Regions from separate parts of the Homo sapiens genome. Here regions 2 and 3 are each reported to be linked to region 1. The links are microRNA targets in miRTarBase. Many come from high-throughput screens and were not tested one by one. Region 1 holds a microRNA gene; each other region holds the end of a gene's coding sequence.
The links. The annotated mature microRNA hsa-miR-7151-3p reads CUACAGGCUGGAAUGGGCUCA and lies in region 1 at 1,751-1,771, opposite strand. An mRNA with a match to its seed (bases 2 to 7 or 8) in the 3' UTR can be bound and repressed. Matches are read on the target gene's strand: a 7mer-m8 pairs with bases 2 to 8, a 7mer-A1 pairs with bases 2 to 7 and ends in A, and an 8mer does both.

Region 2: miRTarBase lists PSD4 as a target of hsa-miR-7151-3p. Seed matches in the 3' UTR shown: 7mer-m8 at 1,507-1,513.
Region 3: miRTarBase lists WNT2B as a target of hsa-miR-7151-3p. Seed matches in the 3' UTR shown: 7mer-m8 at 3,704-3,710.

Annotation. Positions count from the first base shown.
Region 1 is chr10:67,401,601-67,405,600 of GRCh38, forward strand. MIR7151 (microRNA 7151) reads right to left here and starts at 1,810; the gene lies at 1,751-1,810. All of the region lies in intron 5 of CTNNA3 (catenin alpha 3), which reads right to left.
Region 2 is chr2:113,201,107-113,205,106 of GRCh38, forward strand. PSD4 (pleckstrin and Sec7 domain containing 4) reads left to right here. Exons shown (of 17, transcript NM_012455.3): 17 at 52-4,000. The coding sequence ends at 309. Among named protein-coding and RNA genes, the nearest start is that of PSD4, 29 kb to the left of the region's middle. RefSeq lists enhancers at 2,779-2,828, 3,169-3,218.
Region 3 is chr1:112,520,136-112,524,135 of GRCh38, forward strand. WNT2B (Wnt family member 2B) reads left to right here. Exons shown (of 5, transcript NM_024494.3): 5 at 145-4,000. The coding sequence ends at 374. ST7L (suppression of tumorigenicity 7 like) reads right to left here. Exons shown (of 15, transcript NM_017744.5): 15 at 3,379-4,000. Among named protein-coding and RNA genes, the nearest start is that of WNT2B, 13 kb to the left of the region's middle.

The DNA of each region.
Region 1 (4,000 bases):
CCCAAAGACCTAATAAAAACAACAACAAAATCGAAGGTACAGTGCTAGTGATTGGATGTGGCTCCCCCAAGCAGACCTGATGAGGGGGTCATCTATTTCCCCCTTGCACTGCAGAACACAGCTGCAAATGTTAACATAGACAAAGGAACCACAAGGCTGAGTAGAAGCCTATCTACTGCCCATTGCTCTCAAGGACCATCTACTAGATTGTAGCCCAAACTACAACACCAAAATCACTTTACTAATCCTGCCCTTGCAAAACCAAGAGTAAGAATTCTGCAACGAAGACACCATACAGAGCCTTAGTTCTCTAAAAACTTTCAGAAACAAAGCCAACAAAGTACACTCAATTTACACCACAATTAAAAGAATACCATCCCTCCCAGATGAGAAAGAATCAGCATAAGAACTCTGGCAATTCAAAAAGCCACACTGCCCCCTTACCTCCAAATGAGCCCACTAGCTCCCCAGAAATGTTTCCTAACCAGTCTGAATTATCTGAAATGACAGACATAGAATTCAAAATATGGATGGCAAAGAAGCTCATTGAGATCAAGAAGAAAGTTGAAACTCAATCCAAGGAAGCCAAGCAATCCAGTAAAATGATTCAAGGGCTGAAAGGTGAAATTCTCACTTAAAGAGAGACAAAAACTTAATTTCTTGAGCTGAAAAATTCACTACAAAAATTACATAATATAATTGGAAGTATTAACAGCAGAATAGACCAAGCTGAGGAAAGAATCTGAGAGCTCAAAGAGCAATTCTTTCAATTAACACAGTCAGACAAAAATACAGAAAAGAGAATTGAGAAAGATGAAGAGCAGAGAGTGGGCCGAGACCTCCAATTAGAAGTAGCTATGGTGCATGGCACTCATAAAGAGGAAGAAAAGCAGTGAGTAAATACAGCACCTTCAACTGAAATATCCAGGTTTTCGCACTGGGACTGATCAGGGAAATAACCAATCCACAGAAAACAGAGAAAAGTAGGGCAGGATGATAGCCCACCTGGAAGTGACGCAAAGCCAAGGGAACCCCCACCCCAGCCAAGGAAGTGGTAAGTGAATGTGCCACCCTGGGAAACCACATTTCTCCCATGGATCTTTGCAACCCTCAGATCAGGAGATCCCCTCATAAACCCACTCCACCAGGACCTTGGGTCAGATACACAGAGCTGTGTGGAGTCTCAGCAGGGCAGCCACTCAGGTATGCACAGAGACCCAGGAGATTTACATACCCCAGCCACAGGATCCCTGGCAAAGGTGACTACAACTCAGTCAAGGCGGGAGGTCCATACATACCCCTAGGAAGGGGGCCGAATCCAGGGAGCTGAACAGCGTCCATCTGTGGGCCCCATTTCCAAGGCACCTCACAAAATAAGACCCACTGGCTTGGAACTTCAGCCAGCCACCAGCAACAGGGTAGTGCCTGCCTGAGATGGAATGGAGCTGCCAGGGAAAGGGGTGGGCTGTCACCTTTGTTATTTGGACAACTCAGCTGTTCAAGTCTGTGGGCTTTGGAGAGTCCAAACAGTCTGGACAAGTAAGGGACCCCCAGCACAGCACAGCACAGCTGCTCTATGAAAATGTGGCCAGACTACTTCTTTAAGTGGGACCCCAATCCATTCCACCCCACTGGGCAGGACTTCCCAATAGGGACCTCCAGCCACCCCTGCCCATATTCTAGGAAAGAACTCTGATCTCTCCCTTGGCTGGAGTGCCCAGTGGGGAGGGATGAGCTGCCAATGTTGCTTTGAGCCCATTCCAGCCTGTAGGCTTTGCAGAATCCAAGCCAATACAGGCAGAGATGGATCCCCAGCAACGCATGGCTGTTTTGTCAAGGTGTGGCCAGACTGCTTCTTTAAATAGAACCCCAATCCATTCCTCCTTGCTGGGCAGGTCCTCCCAACCAGTGCTTCCAACCACCCTCACCCATGTTCTATGGCTGACAAAGTTCTAATTTCTCCCTGTGATGGAGTGCCCAGGGGGCCAGGTGGGCTGCCACCTGTGCTGTTTGGGCATCTCACCCAGTCCAACCTGTGGGCCTTGGAAAGTGCAAAACTATATGGGGGTGAAGGGAAGCCAAACACAGCACAGCTGCTCTACAAAAACGCAGGAAGGCTGCTTCTTTAAGGAGGTCCCTGATCCCATTCCTCCTGACTAGGTGAGACCTCCAAAACAGGGTTTCCAGCCACATCCTATGGGTGCATTCAGGCTGGCAACAGGTCAGTACTTCTCTGGGACAGAGCTCTGAGAGGAAGGGGCAGGCTGCCATCTTTGCTGTTTTGCAGCCTTCACCGGTAATACCTACAGGTACTGAAAAAACTGAGGTGACTAGGGTCTGAAGCAGCCGCCCAGCAAATCATAGCAGCCCTACAGAAAAGTGGTCAGACTGTTCAAAGAAAAAACGAGCAAAACAACAAGAACAACAACAACAAAAACCCATCCAAAGGTCAACAACCTCAAAGATCAAAGGTAGATAAGCCAACAAAGATGAGAAAGAATCAGCACAAAAACACAGAAAACTCAAAAATCCAGTGTGCTCCCTTTCCTCTAAATGACCACAACACCTCTCCAGCAGGGATTTAGAACTGGACTGAGGCTGAGATGGCTGAGATGATAGAAATAGGATTCCAAATGTGGATCTAAAAAATGAACTTCACTGAGCTAAAGGAGCACTTTGCAACTCAATGCAAGGAAGCTAAGAATCATGATAAAACAATGCAGGAGCTGACAGCCAAAATAGCCAGTATAGAGAGGAATATAACCAACCTGATAGAGCTGAAAAAAACACAACAAGAACTTCACGATGCAATCACAAGTATTAATAGCAGAATAGGCCAAGCAGAAGAAAGAATCTCAGAGCTTGAAGAATGTCATTCTGAAATAACACAGGCAGACAAAAATAGAGAAAAACAATGAAAAGGAATAAACAAAACCTCCAAGAAATATGGGATTATGTAAAGAGACTGAATCTATGACTGATTGGGGTACCTGAAAAAGATGAGGAGAATGGGACCATTTTGGATAACATAATTCAGGATATCATCCAGGAGAACTTCCCTGACCTACCTACAGAAGCCAACATTCAAATTCAGAAAATGCAGAGAACCCCAGTAAGATACTTACTCCACAAGAAGATCGTCCCCAAAACATGTAATCATCAGATCCTCCAAGGTCAAAATGAAATAAAAAATGTCAAAGGCCACTGGAAAGAAAGGCGAGGCCACCTACAAAGGGAAGCCCATTGGACTAACAGTGGACCTCTCAGCAGAAACCATGCAAGCCAGAAGAGATTGGGGGACAATATTCAACATTTTTAAAGAAAAGAAATTCCAATGCAGAATTACATATCTAGCCAAACTAAGCTTCATAAGAGAAGAAATAAGATCCTTTTCAGACAAGCAAATTCTGAGGGAATTTGTTACCACCAGACCTGCTTTATAAAAGCTCCTGAAGGAAGCACTAAATATAAAAAGGGAAAACTGTTGCCAGCCTCTACAAAAATACACTGAAGTATACAGACCAGTGACATTATAAAGCAACTACATAAACAAGTCTGCAAAATAACCAGCTAGCATCATGATCACAGGATCAAATCCATACATAACAGTATTAACCTTAAATGCTCCAATTAAAAGACACAGAGTAAAAAGCTGGATAAAGAACCAAGACCCACTGGTAAGCTGTCTTCAAGAGACCCATCTCACACGCAAAAACATACACAGGCTAAAAATAAAGGGATGGAGGAAAATTTACCAACCAAATAGAAAACAGAAAAAAGCAGGGATTGCAATCCTAGCATCTAACAAAAAAAGACTTTAAACCAAAAAATATCAAAAAAGACAAAGAAGAGTATTACATAATGATAAAGGGTTCAATTCAACAAGAATAGCTAACTGTCCTAAATATATGTGCACCCAAAACAGGAACACCCAGATTCATAAAGCAAGTTCTTAGAGACCTTCAAAGAGACTTAGACTCCCACACAATAATAGTGGGAG
Region 2 (4,000 bases), not on the chromosome of region 1:
CCCAACCTGGAGCCAGGATGGTGCTAAGGTGGTGGGGCCTGTGTGTTGCAGAAAACCCGCTACGAGACCTACGTGCAGCTGCTGGTGGCCCGCCTGCACTGCCCCTCTGATGCTCTGGACCTGTGGGAGGAGCAGCTGGGGAGGGAAGCTGGAGGCACTCGGGAGCCCAAGCTCAGCCTGAAGAAGTCCCACTCGAGCCCGTCCCTGCACCAGGATGAGGCTCCCACCACGGCCAAGGTGAAGCGCAACATCTCAGAGCGCAGAACCTACCGGAAGATCATCCCTAAGCGGAACCGCAATCAGCTGTGAAGCCAGCACCACCTCAGAGACACTGTTCCCTGCTCCAGGGTAGACCTGAGATGAACCTCCCTGGAGGAGACTTATTTCAATGAGTCCACCATGACGGATGAGGCACCTCCTTTCCCTGCTGAAGGACAAACCTTGTTTCCCTGTGGCCCTCATTCTTGTGCTCCCTGAAGCTTTCCTAATATTGCTGTGCTCCCCACCACCCCCATGGCAGTCCCTCCGCAGCCCCAGTCCCTGGCCACGCCCAAGGGAAGAGGGAGGTGAGGACTTGACTTTCCTCCCAGAGCTCAGCCCATGTCACCCTCCAGGCCCCAGAATCCAGAGTGGCCTCATTTCCTAGACTTGCTGAGAACTCAGCACTTGTTTGAGAACCAGTGCTTATGTGGTGTGCCCTTGGCTTCTGGGGGAGAGCTTGGGGCAGCAGAGGCCCCTGGGCAGCCCAGCCAGGGGAGCCACAGCCCCAAGGATGGTCTTGCTCTGGGAATTAGGTGACCTTCCTGGGGAGGCCCCAGGAGAGTGAATCAGGGACTCTTGAGAAATTCCTAACCAGCCTCCTGTGACCCAGGGAGCAGGGTCGCTAAGGTCCTGCCCACTGAGGGGACAGCCTTCTGGGCAGGGACCTCGGGGGGCTTCAAGGGCTCTGCACGGCTGTGGGGCCCTGTGCCTTTGTCTCCTTGTGTCTCCTTTCCCCCGAAGTAGATGAAACAGTCTCACATACCCAACTGCTCATCAACAGAGCAGAGCTGATGGCATGAGTGAGGGCTGGGCGGGGTGGGGCCTCCAGAGCTTTGCAGGGAACCCTGGAACCCTAGGAACAAGGAGCCTTTGTTCCAACAGAGCAGAGAAGGAGGTTCTCTATGTTCAGACCACTGGAGAGGATAGAGAGGTAAAAGGTGGCGACAGTTTCCCTTAGGGGTCTGCCTGGCAGGAGCCACAGCTCAGGAGAGTTGTGAGGGATGGGACGGAGGCTGGCGACCAGGCGAGGCCTAGGCCAGGCTCGGGAGACTTTTCTGTGCTCCTTTCTACACATGCCTTAAACCTTCCTTCCTGTGGGGTGCCTGGACCCCTTCCCCATCTCTGGCAGCTCAGAGGGTCTCTGCTGCTCTCCCCTGGGAAATCCCCTCATCCTGCCCTCTGGCTGCCTCCCAGCTGGGCTTGTTCTCTGAGGGAGGTTCCGGAGACTCATGGACTTGGGGCTCTGCCTGTAGGAAGGAGGCTGGGCCGGAGGGACCAGCCACCATTGTCTCTGTTCAGCCAAGTGTGCAAGTAGGCTGCCCGCCAAGAGGGGGCCTCTGCTACCCGCTGCTGCCTGCCGGCTGACACACTGCCTCCCCAGCCTTCCTGCTAGGCCACCCTCCTCCCTTCCCATGCTTGTAACCAGCTCTGGGGCTTGCACCTCCACAAAGTAAGGTTGGCCCTTGGAGGCCATGTTTGGGTCTCCGGCCAGGGCCTAGGGCTAGGCCATGCACCCAATGGGTGCACAATAAATAACAGGTCAACAAAGAGGGAGGTGTGTCAGTGTGTGAGGAAGGGAGGTCAGGCAGCTAGGACCACCTGCAGTGTGGCAGGCTTCATCCCTCTTTGCTCCAAGTGTGTATGTGTGTCTGTGCATGTGTGTAGTGTCTGTGTCTGTGTGTTCATGCATATGCAGGAGTCACACGGTCATAGGCCATCAAAGCTGGAGGAGACCTCAGAATCATTCATTCACCTACTTGCTCATTTATTCATTCATTCATTTTGCAGATAATATGGGACGCTTTCTATGTGCCAGTACCAGGGGATTCACAAATGAATTAAACATGTCCCTGACTCCATGAGTTGACAATCTTGCCCACTGGTTTCCTGCTCTCAGTTTACAGAGGCACTTTTATCTTGCTGGGGAAGTGTGCTGAAAAGACACATTCCCAGCCCACACCCAGGGATGCTGATTCAGTCAGCCTGGGTCAGAGGGATAGATAAATATGTTTAAAGCTCCTTGGGTAATTCTGATGTGTAAGTAGCAGTTAGCTGCAGTAGAGTCCAATTGCCTCATTTGATTGAAGTGGAATCCCAGCATCAAGTGGACATGACTTTTGGCCCAAGACTGATGCTTACAAACTAAGTGGAGTAGGTTATTTGACCTCACTGAACATGCATCCTTTTTTTTTTTTTTTTTTTTTTTTTTTTTTGGAGACGGAGTTTCGCTCTTGTAACCCAGGCTGGAGTGCAATGGTGTGATCTTGGCTGACTGCAACCTCCACTGAATCAAGCGATTCTCCTGCCTCAGCCTCCCAAGTAGCTAGGATTACAGGCGTGTGCCACCACGCCCGGCTATTTTTTGTATTTTTAGTAGAGATGGGGTTTCGTCATGTTGGCTAGGCTGGTCTCGAACTCCTGACCTCAGGTAGTCTGCCTGCCTCGGCCCCCCAAAGTGCTGGGATTACAGGCGTGAACCACCACACCTGGCCTATGCATCCTTATTTCTAAAACCATGATAAAAGGTGAAAGTCTGAATGCATGTGTGTGTGACACTTTGATGCTCCTTTGCTCATGTAGAACCGGCACCTCTCTTTCACCTGAGCACGTGGAATCTTCAGAGCCAGATGATGGTGGCTGCCTGGCCTGCCATAGTCAATGCTGCCCAGGCACCTCTGCCTGGAGGGTCTGGGTTGTGGGCTGCAGTTATGACATGTGACCACTTGGAGGCAGGCTTGCATCTTTCTAGCTTCTGGCTGCTCAGGTGTCCTGCTGTGGAGCTGAGCTGTGCTCCCTGAAAGGCAGGAAGTTATTATGTGTGCCCCTGTGCCATCACCGAACCAGGACCTTCAACTTCGTAAAACCCACAGTGGCCTGGGCCAGGACTCCCACCATCTAGGGAAGCCTCTCCTAGGGAAAAGACTGGGGCTCTGACATCTTCCTGCAGATGGAGAGAAAGAAAGACATCTCAGAAGTCTATGGGGACAGCCTACAGCTCCCCACAGGGTTGCTCCAGGTAACGCTGGAAGGTGAAAGCTGAGCAGGCTCCAGTCCCCATCCTAGGTATGGAACAGATCAAACCACCACAGGCCTATGTCTGACCTTGTTCCCACCCCATGCTCCTCTCCCACCTGTGTCCTTCTCTTTGCAGGAGAAGGGACAGACAGAGGTTCTCAGTGATGAGCTCAGGCTCTGGAAGGGCACTTGAAGTTTGGCTTTAGTTCTTCCTTTCCCATATAGGGGAGCTCAGCTTCCAGGGTCCTGGGCCTGCTGTGACCCAGGTTGTTACTCCTGATATAACTGCTTCCTGGGCTCTCATGATCTCAGCTGAGCCTGGCTTTCTGCTGATGATATTTGTTTGTTGCTTGCCAGGCACCAGGGTAGATAAAAAGATCACCAAGACCCGCACCTTTTTCCTTAGGAGGGTCTGAGTCTTCAGGAGACGGAGACATATGGAATGTGTCGGGGTTGGAAGGAGCAGGACTGGAGGGTCGGGGTGAGGGGGGCAGAGGGAAACAGGGCCGTCAGGGTGGCCTGAGGCCAGATCATACAGGGTCTCCAATGCAGCCAAGGAGAGTGGCTTTTTGTGAATGTGCAGTGCAACTTTTTTTTTTTTTTGAGACAGAGTCTCGCTCTGTTGCCCAGGCTGGAGTGCAATGGTGCGATCTCAGCTCACTGCAACCTCCGCCTCCTGGGTTCAAGAGATTCTCCTTTCCCAGCCTCCCAAGTAGCTGGGATT
Region 3 (4,000 bases), not on the chromosome of region 1:
TGCTGGGATGATAGGCATGAGTGAGCCACTGTGCCCAGCCCAAAAAAGCGATTCTTTTTATCTTCCTTCTGAGAATGTGGTTAAGGGTATCCAGGGCAGCTGAAGAGATAACTTTGTTCTCACTCCCTCTCTTCCCCAACCCAGGTTCCCTAGGCACTGCAGGCCGTGTCTGCAGCAAGACATCAAAAGGAACAGACGGTTGTGAAATCATGTGCTGTGGCCGAGGGTACGACACAACTCGAGTCACCCGTGTTACCCAGTGTGAGTGCAAATTCCACTGGTGCTGTGCTGTACGGTGCAAGGAATGCAGAAATACTGTGGACGTCCATACTTGCAAAGCCCCCAAGAAGGCAGAGTGGCTGGACCAAACCTGAACACACAGATACCTCACTCATCCCTCCAATTCAAGCCTCTCAACTCAAAAGCACAAGATCCTTGCATGCACACCTTCCTCCACCCTCCACCCTGGGCTGCTACCGCTTCTATTTAAGGATGTAGAGAGTAATCCATAGGGACCATGGTGTCCTGGCTGGTTCCTTAGCCCTGGGAAGGAGTTGTCAGGGGATATAAGAAACTGAGCAAGCTCCCTGATTTCCCGCTCTGGAGATTTGAAGGGAGAGTAGAAGAGATAGGGGGTCTTTAGAGTGAAATGAGTTGCACTAAAGTACGTAGTTGAGGCTCCTTTTTTCTTTCCTTTGCACCAGCTTCCCGATACTTCTTGGTGTGCAAGAGGAAGGGTACCTGTAGAGAGCTTCTTTTTGTTTCTACCTGGCCAAAGTTAGATGGGACAAAGATGAATGGCATGTCCCTTCTCTGAAGTCCGTTTGAGCAGAACTACCTGGTACCCCGAAAGAAAATCTTAGGCTACCACATTCTATTATTGAGAGCCTGAGATGTTAGCCATAGTGGACAAGGTTCCATTCACATGCTCATATGTTTATAAACTGTGTTTTGTAGAAGAAAAAGAATCATAACAATACAAACACACATTCATTCTCTCTTTTTCTCTCTACCATTCTCAACCTGTATTGGACAGCACTGCCTCTTTTGCTTACTTGCTGCCTGTTCAAACTGAGGTGGAATGCAGTGGTTCCCATGCTTAACAAATCATTAAAACACCCTAGAACACTCCTAGGATAGATTAATGTAGTAAGTCTGGCTAGGCCTTGTGTTGCCTTTTTTTTTTTTTTTTTTTTCTTTTCTTTTCTTCTCTTCCCATGCACTATTCTGGAGGTTTGCCAGGTTTGGGGAGACATGGAGTAAAAGAAAGATAGGCAACTCATGGATGGTGGGAGAGCAGGTAAGCAGGTCTGATCTCAAGGGCCCACATGAGGCATCAGTATATATTAGGCAGGTAGGGATCTCTGGCTTTGGTAATTCTTTATGAGAGGATCCTAGCCTTTGAAGCTGGGAGCAGGAGTCAGTGGCTACAGTGGGAAGGAGTACTGCAGGTTGGGGCCAAAGTGATACACAGCTTAGAAGGCAGCCTTCCTCCACTTACTCAACAAATCTTTATTTAGTGACTCTCCAAGTCCTAGTGATTATTATTATTGTTCACTCCACATTTGGCTTAATGGGTAATGCTATTACCCATTGCCTAACTAGGTTTGCAGTAGTGGAATCTCCAGAGATAGCAGGCTTAGTAAGCTGGAGGTAGGACATGAAGTCCCCCAAAACTTGATGTCCTATTTTTATGTGAGTTGGACAGTGGTTATCTTTTGCCTGTTGATATCTTAAAGCAGCAGAGTGGTATAGAAATTTGCGGTTATGACAGACCCGGGTTAAAAATCACAGCTGTGCCATTTGCTTTGATATTTTGAGCAAGGTAGCTAAATTTTCTGAGCTTCTATTTTCTCATCTGTAAAATGAGGATACGTACCTGTTCTTTTTTTTCTTTCTTTTTATTTCTTTTAGAGATAGGGTCTCGCTTTGTTGCCCAGGCTGGAGTGCACTGGCATGATCATGGCTCACTGCAGCCTCAAATTCCCAGGCTCAAGCAATCCTCCCACCTCAGCCTCCCCATTAGCTGGGACTACAGGGCCATGCCATCATGCCCAGCTAATTTAAACATAGTTTTCAGAGATGGAGCTCACTATGTTGCCCAGGCTGGTCTTGAATTCTTGGTCTCAAGCAATCCTCCCACTGCAGCCTTCCAAAGTGCTGGGCGTACAAGCGCAAGCCACTGTGCCCAGCTGTCAGACGCTGAGTTTTAATTATGCACCAAACTCCAGCCCGCAGATCCTCTTCACCAAAGCCCCTGGCTGGTCTAGCCCATCATGACTTCTCTAGGAACAGTCCTTCTTTAGGACTATAAAGTATTAACAAAAGTCTGTAGATTAAGGAGCCTGCATAAAGAATTCTGGATACAGGCCCCTGTCTTTCCAAAGTTCCTCTCCAATATCCCTTGGGGTCCTCATGTTTTTGAAGCAGCTTCACTCTGCACAGGCAGCAGGAGGTTGGGGGAGCCATAGCTCTGGGCCACGGGGGCAGATTTATTTGGATGATAGGACTAATATTTGTGTAACCTGCTGAGACCTGTGTGGGAGAGTTTAGGGTGGTTTTTCTTTTGGTGAGGGGATTTGCTCTGGTTTCACATCCATTAACACAAAACATGAGCTAGTCAGGGCCCTTGTGGTCTGCGGTAAGGGGATGCCTGTGGAGAAATGGGCCTGAGTGAGTCAGGCCAAGAGAATGTCTTCCTTCAGAATGGAGTCAACTGGATAACTGATGAGCCAATGGTGGGATTAAGGAGGGGGAAATGGGAGGGGAAGAGAACAGCTGACATCTTGAGGAAAGCTTTGGGGTAGTGGAGAGGTAAGGGGGTCATGGTCAGTCTGAACTCAACAATAGGGCTGAATGAATTTACCAAAGGAAGCTGCCTTATATTATATGCCAGGCTGCTGGGGAAAGCCTCAGGTCCTGGCCAGCCCCTGTTCTCACAAGAACATGCAGGTTACCACATAAATAATGGCATATGCCTTCCATAGGACGTCAACCTGACTTAAATCTACCTATACCCTACTCTCTATTCTTTGGTTTTTGGTTCTCATCCCTGTGGAAGGAAATGGGCCTCTTCTGGCATCTCATGCTACTCTGTGCTTTTCCTTGGGCTCCAAATTCTAGCTCATAAAGATGCAAGTTTTGCAATTTCCTATAAATGGTTAAGAAAAGAGCAAGCTGTCCAGAGAGTGAGAAGTTTGAAAAGAGAGGTGCATAAGAGAGAAATGATGTCCATTTGAGCCCCACCACGGAGGTTATGTGGTCCCAAAAGGAATGATGGCCAAGCAATTAATTTTTCCTCCTAGTTCTTAGCTTGCTTCTGCATTGATTGGCTTTACACAACTGGCATTTAGTCTGCATTACACAAATAGACACTAATTTATTTGGAACAAGCAGCAAAATGAGAACTTTATTTGGTGCAGTCAGGGCTCCATTTAGTTCCCTCACTCTGCTTCTAATCACCCCTTCTCCCAGCCCTCTTCTATTTGATAGAGGTCTGTCCCTCAGATCAGCAATGTCTTAGCCCCTCTCCTCTCTTCCATTCCTTCCTGTTGGTACTCATTTCTTCTAACTTTTAATAAACATTTAGGTATAATACATTACAGTAAGTGCTATTTAGATACAAACTTAAAACATACTATATATTTTAAGGATCTAAGAATCCTTTAGAGAAGGCACATGACTGAAGTACCTCAGCTGCGCAGCCTGTAGCCAGTTTTTTTAATGTAAAAGTAAGAATGCCAGCCTTAACCTAGCCCTGCAGATAAAAGCTAACTTTTATTAATACCAGCCCTGAATAATGGCACTAATCCACACTCTTCCTTAGAGTGATGCTGGAAAAATAAAATCAGGGGCTTCAGATTAAAAAAAAAAACAAAAAACAAAAAACAAAAACAAACATTGCCTGGCCCTGAGGGTCTGTTTGCAAAACTTCTTGTAGATCTAATTTCTGAACACTCACTGCTTCATTTCTATTCCTCCTGTTGCAGGGAGTAATTTC